Linked DNA regions of Homo sapiens: region 1 is linked to region 2. The links come from fine-mapping of genetic effects on gene expression. A gene starts in region 2. The other region holds a variant in brackets. All regions are shown on one strand. Distances are between the middles of the regions. Region 1 has its middle 1.6 kb from the start of PPP1R14D. Region 2 holds the start of ZFYVE19 (zinc finger FYVE-type containing 19).

The links. PIP is the estimated chance that this variant, and not a neighbour inherited with it, causes the effect.
Region 1: its variant is fine-mapped to the expression of ZFYVE19 in caudate (GTEx, PIP 0.91).

The regions. Positions count from the first base shown.
Region 1 is chr15:40,828,875-40,831,779 of GRCh38, reverse strand. No RefSeq gene overlaps it. Among named protein-coding and RNA genes, the nearest start is that of PPP1R14D, 1.6 kb to the right of the region's middle. The variant T/C (reference allele first, on the strand shown) is at 1,453.
Region 2 is chr15:40,805,867-40,808,771 of GRCh38, reverse strand. It overlaps ZFYVE19 (zinc finger FYVE-type containing 19), which reads right to left and starts at 1,683. Exons shown (of 11, transcript NM_001077268.2): 1 at 904-1,683. The coding sequence starts at 1,182. DNAJC17 (DnaJ heat shock protein family (Hsp40) member C17) reads left to right here and starts at 1,299. Exons shown (of 11, transcript NM_018163.3): 1 at 1,299-1,403. The coding sequence starts at 1,326. RefSeq lists enhancers at 651-700, 1,331-1,380, 1,421-1,470, 1,931-2,020.

The sequences.
Region 1 (2,905 bases), 23 kb before region 2:
TTCTTTGTTTGTTTTTTGTTTTGTTTGTTTTTTGTTGTTATTGTTGTTGTTGTTATTTTTTGGGGTTTTTTTGAGACAGAGTTTCGCTCTTGTTGCCCAGGCTGGAGTGCAATGGCACGATCTCAGCTCACTGCAACCTCCGTCTCCTGGGTTCAAGCAATTCTCTTGCCTCAGCCTCCCAAGTAGCTGGGATTACAGGCACCCACCACCACGCCTGGCTAACTTTTTGTATTTTTAGCAGAGATGAGGTTTCACCATGTTGACCAGGCTGGTCTGAAACTCCTGACCTCAGGTGATCCACCCACCTCAGCCTCCCAAACTGTTGGGATTACAGGTGTGAGCCACCGTGCCTGCCCTTTGTTTAGTTTTTACAGAGACAAGGTCTCACTATGTTGATCAGGCTGGTCTTGAACTCCTGACTTCAAGCAATCTTCTCGCCTCAGCCTCCCAAAGTGCTGGGATCACAGGTGTGACCCACCGTGCCCATCCTGTGGCTCTTGAATAACCACTGAGCATAATGTTTGGCCTACCAGGGGAGCTCATAAAATCTTTGTTAAATGAGTGAGTAAATAAATGAACAAAACACAGTGACTCTTCTCATCTAGTTTCTTTTCCCGAAAGGGCTCTCAAACCCTTCAGAAGATAGGAAACAGAAGAGGCAGGGAACTACCATAATAATGCCTCCTGGCCACAGACTGTTAAAGTGACAGCTGAGTCAACAAGATGCATCCTAGAGGCCCCCCTCCTCCTGCTCAGGAAGAGAGCCACACTGATGAAAGCCCAGGCATTGACCACCAGAGCCTCGCCAGGAGGGCAGGGAGAGTGGGGAGGTAAATAAAGGACAGGAATGAATGTCTACTGACAGGGACTCTGTTTCAGATGCCATGCTAAATGTTTACATGCATCATCTCATTTTATCTTCCCAACAAGCCCAATCTGCAGATGTGAAAACAGGCTATGAAACTTGGCCAAGGATTATAAAACCAATGCAGGGCAAAGCTGAGTTGAACTCAGATTGTCAGCCTTCCTCCAAAGCCTGGGCTTTTCCTGGCTGCCATCTTAGTTTCCAGCCACTCAAACACCTCCCTTATCTTCTTAAGTGAGGGCCTAAAATTTCATCATTAAACTGTCATCCATTCGCCTTTTTCCTTTTTTGAGACAGGGTCTTGCTCTGTCACCCATGCTTAAGTGCAGTGTTGCCATTGTAGCTCACTGTAGCCTTGAACTCCTGGGCTGAAGTGATTTTCCCACCTTCCAAGCAGCTAGGATGACAGGTGTGCACCACCATATCTGAGTAATCTTGCTTTTCATTTTTTACTTTTTTTTTTTTTTTTTTTTTGAGACGGGGTCTTGCTCTGTCACCCAGGCTGGAGTGCAGTGGCATGATCTCGGCTCACTGCAACCTCCGCCTCCTGGGCCCAGGCGATTCTCCTCCCTCAGCCTCCTGAATAG[T/C]TGGGGCTACAGACGTGTGCCACCACGCCCGGCTAATTTTTGTATTTTTAGTAGAGACAGGGTTTTGCCATGTTGGCCAGGCTGATCTCAAACTCCTGACCTCAAGTCATCTGTCCACCTCAGCCTCCCAAAGTGCTGGGATTACAGGCATGAGCCACCGTGCCTGGCCCATTGTTTACATTTTTTAATGGAGACAAGATCTCACTGTGTTGCCCGGACTGGTCTTGAACTACTGGCCTCAAGCAATCTTCCCGCCTGGGTCTCCCAAAGCAGCTAATTTTTTGTATTATTATTATTTTTTTTTTTGGTAGAGAGAGAATTTCACCATTTTGCCCAGGCTGGTCTTGAACTCCTGAGCTCAAGCAATCCACGCGCCTCGGCCTCCCAGAGTGCTGGGATTACAGGCGTGAGCCACCATGCCTGGCCCCATTTTAAAAAAATTACAGGCTGGGCACGGTGGCTCACTCCAGTAATCCCACCACTTTGGGAGGCCGAGGCGGGTGGATCATGAGGTCAGGCATTTGAGACCAGCCTGGGCAACATAGTGAAACCTCGTCTCTACTAAAAATACAAAAAATTATCCGGGCATGGTGGTGGGCGCCTGTAATCCCAGCTTCTTGGGAGGCTGAGGCAGGAGAATTGCTTGAACTTGGGAGGCGGATGTTGCAGTGAGCCAAGATCGCAGCATTGCCCCCCAGCCTGGGTGACAGTGCGAGACTCCATCTCAAAAAAAAAAAAAAAAAAATTACAGTGTTCTTCTGTCACTTTTTTTTTTTAAAGTTTAGAAATTTTCATTATAAAAGACTAAACAAAAATACCCTGCCTTAGAATGCAAGTATGTATGCCTGGAAGTATTAGTCCCTGACACCTGTGTATAAGTTAGGTTTGCAGGTTTCCTCTGTGTCAGCAAATACATGAATCGGGGGAGGGTCACGTGGTAATAAACATGGCTTCCTAAGCAGTTGCCTCAGGGGAGCGGGCATAGTAGACAAGTCTTGATAAATTTGCCTTTACAAGCAGGTAAACTGCCTTTATAGGCCAGGCTGATAGCAGTTTACATTCGGACACACCCAGACACTGGGGGCACTGGTCCTACGGGAGCCATCAATAACTGACCTCCAACTCTATCTACCAGCTGGGGCTCTGCCCCCAGTAGTGCTACGCTCTGAGTAAGAATCCCTGCCAGCCAGGGACCCTGCTTCTGCGGAATCTGACCACAGCTTCTCAGAGCCCAGAGTGGATCCAGCCCCAGGAAGGTGGGATACAGAGGGATCTCAGGTGAGAACGACTCAGGTCCCATTCCAGAGCTGGCCATAGAGCAGCGATTGGAGCCCTGTACCCTTCAGGACCCCAGGGCCCCTTCCTCCTCCCTGGGCATGGCAGCCTCTTGACCTTTGCTCATCTGCAGTTTATGCCACTTTGGGCCCTAGAAGCTGCAGAAAGGGAGGCTGGG
Region 2 (2,905 bases):
CCTCTGCTCTTGCAGAGATGGAGGGAGGCTTGGCTCAGGATGGGCTAACAATAGCCTCCATTTATTAAGCACTTACTATGTGCCAGGCACTAAACCCAGTACTTAACATTCATCATGTGATTTATTCCTTACAATTTACACACATTATTTTACTTAATCTTGATGCCAACCGTGATTATCCTTATTTTGAGAGGGCCAGAGAGGTTACATAACTTATCCAAACCAAGGTCACCGCCTCAATAAGACAGCAGAGCTCAGATTTGAACGCTGACTCCAAAATCCAGGTTGGTGAATGCTGCACGGTCCTGCCTTCCTGCGTGACACTAATTTACTCCATCTAGTTCCCATCATCTCCTGGTCAGAATCCCTGGCCACAACTGAGGCAGAGGGAACCTGCAGTTTACCAGAGGAATCTGGCAGGTCTGTGATAGGGACAGGACAGTCAGCCTTCACCATGGTGCCCCGGAAGCAGGAGGAAGTGTGGTAATCTAACTCCAGCGACCTGGAGAAGGGCAGGCTGCGGGATGGGGAAGATTTCAGAGCAGAGGGAGTAACGGGCTTGGTGTGATGGACACCGCGCTTCGGAGGAGCAGGGTGGAGAGAAGAAAACCGCCAGATGCTACACTGGGCCGACAGAAAAGAGTAGCTTTGCAAAAACGACGGCAGCGCGCTTTACAGTTTATAGGGAACTCTCACCTAAAGCACTTCAGTGGACCCTCACATAAACCCTGAAAGCGAGAGAATGTTAGCCCCATTTTACAGAAATGGAAACTGAGGATCAATGACTTCATCAAAACCACACAGCTGGAAAGGAGCCGTAAGACCAAGTCTTTGGACGTTAAGTCCCGCGCTTTTCCCTCCTCTCCTCCCTGGCCCTGCAGCCCTCGGGGAGGGAAGACTCGCCTCCTTCTTGAAGAGGGTGAACTTGACAGCGCAGCCGTAGCACCTACTCTCCATGGTGGCTCCCAGCACCGCAGGGTCTGCAGAGCTGAGATCACGCCGGCCAAGTCCTGGGCCCCTTGGACCCTCACCCCAGCTCCGCCCTTCCCTTCCCTGCCCTGCCCCGCCCCACACGCCCACTGGCACTGTCCCGCCGCGACCTAGAGCAGGGAATCCGGACGCTCTCCTGCAGCCAGCGTACGGCAGCGGCGGCAACGGGGGCTGCTGGGAGTCGTAGTTCATTCACGACTGCCGGCCTCCCTCAGAGTCAGTCAAGCCTGACCCAGAACACAATTCCCAGAGGGCTAGGCGCCGCTCGGAGCCTGCAGTCCTCACGCGCGCTTAGACTCTTGGGAGTTGTAGTACGAATCCGTCAGGCCGGAACCATGGCAGTGACCAAGGAGCTCTTACAGATGGACCTGTACGCGCTGCTAGGCATTGAGGAGAAGGCAGCGGACAAAGAGGTGAGAACGGTGGCGAGGAAGGCTGATCTTGAGAGGTCTGGCGGTCCTTCCTGTCCTAGCGCCTCGGCCACTGCTGGCATCCGCTCTCCAGGTTCATTCGGGTCCTGGGCGGGGAGCGAGGGTCGGCGCTATGCCCTCCGCAGGCGGGCTCCCAGACATTTCCTGGACGGTCCGAGGGCCTCAAGAGGAAGCGGGGTACAGAGGGCTCTTCGCGCCGGGTGGCTGTGCTCTCCCCGTGGCCCCTGTCTCCTAGAGGCCGCGGGGCGAGGCAGCAAGGAACGCTAGCCTCCTCTGCGCCTGCGCAGTCTCGGCCTCCGTTTCCGCTTCTGCCTTGACTGTGACAAGAGGTGCCTCATTTCAGTCTCTTCTGCAGGCTGATTTAATTCTTCCACTAAGAGCCTAGAACGAAAGAAAAGTAAGATCTCAAAGCCTCTCCACTCCCTTTTCATGCCCCCTTGCCAATGTGACCGATGACCCTGCTGTCTCTATTTTCTTTTCCACTCAAGCCCATTGACTCTTTTCAAGTAGCTGATGCCCTTCTCAGCATGTGCTAGTTAGTGGGCTAAAAGCAGGAGGATCAGAAGGTTAAGGCAGATGGTATAGAGGTCCATGCTACCTTAGGTGGTGATAAAGATGCCAGGGAGTGAAACACTGATCAAGCTGGATTTAGGATTTCTTTTATCTCCCCCTGGATCATGGTGGTAGTTTTAACAATATACGAAGGAGAGGCGTTCATCAAATGAAAATTAGTGCCCAACTGAGCCGAGATCGCGCCACTGCACTCCATCCTGGGCGACAGAGCAAGACTCTTTCTCAAAAAAAGAAAGAAAGAAAGAAAATTAGTGTCTACTAGGCCGGGCGCGGTGGCTCACGCCTGTAATCTCAGCACTTTGGGAGGCCGAGGCGGGCGGATCATGTGGTCAGAAGTTCGAGACCAGCCTGACCAATATGCTGAAACCCCTTCTCTACTAAAAATACAAAAATTAGCCGGGCGTGGTGGCACACACCTGTAGTCCCAGCTACTTGGGAGGCTGAGGCAGGAGAATCACTGGAACCCGGGAGGCGGAGGTTGCAGTGAGCTGAGATTGCACCACTGCACTCCAGTCTGGGCGACAGAGCGAGACTGTCTCAAAAAAAAAAAAAAAAAAGGAAAAAAAAATAGTGCCCACTAATGTCCCAGTACTTCTGGGCTGCCCTGCTCATGGGGTGAGTGAGCTTTTGAGAAGAGGAAGCTCTGGGGCAGAAAATCAGAGAGACCCAGAGGGCCCTTGAGAAATGCTGTCAACCTGCACAAATCTGTCCCCTGCAGCCGCAGCTGAAATCAGAAATGGCCATGGGATGTCTATGAAGCATCAAAAGCATCTGCTCCACCTCTCTCGTGTTTCAATATTTTAGGATTAATAATTCCTAACATCTGTATAATGCTTACTATGTCCTAGACAGTATTTTTTTTTTCTGGATAGTATTCTAAGTGCTCTATGTTTACAAATTATTATTTTTTA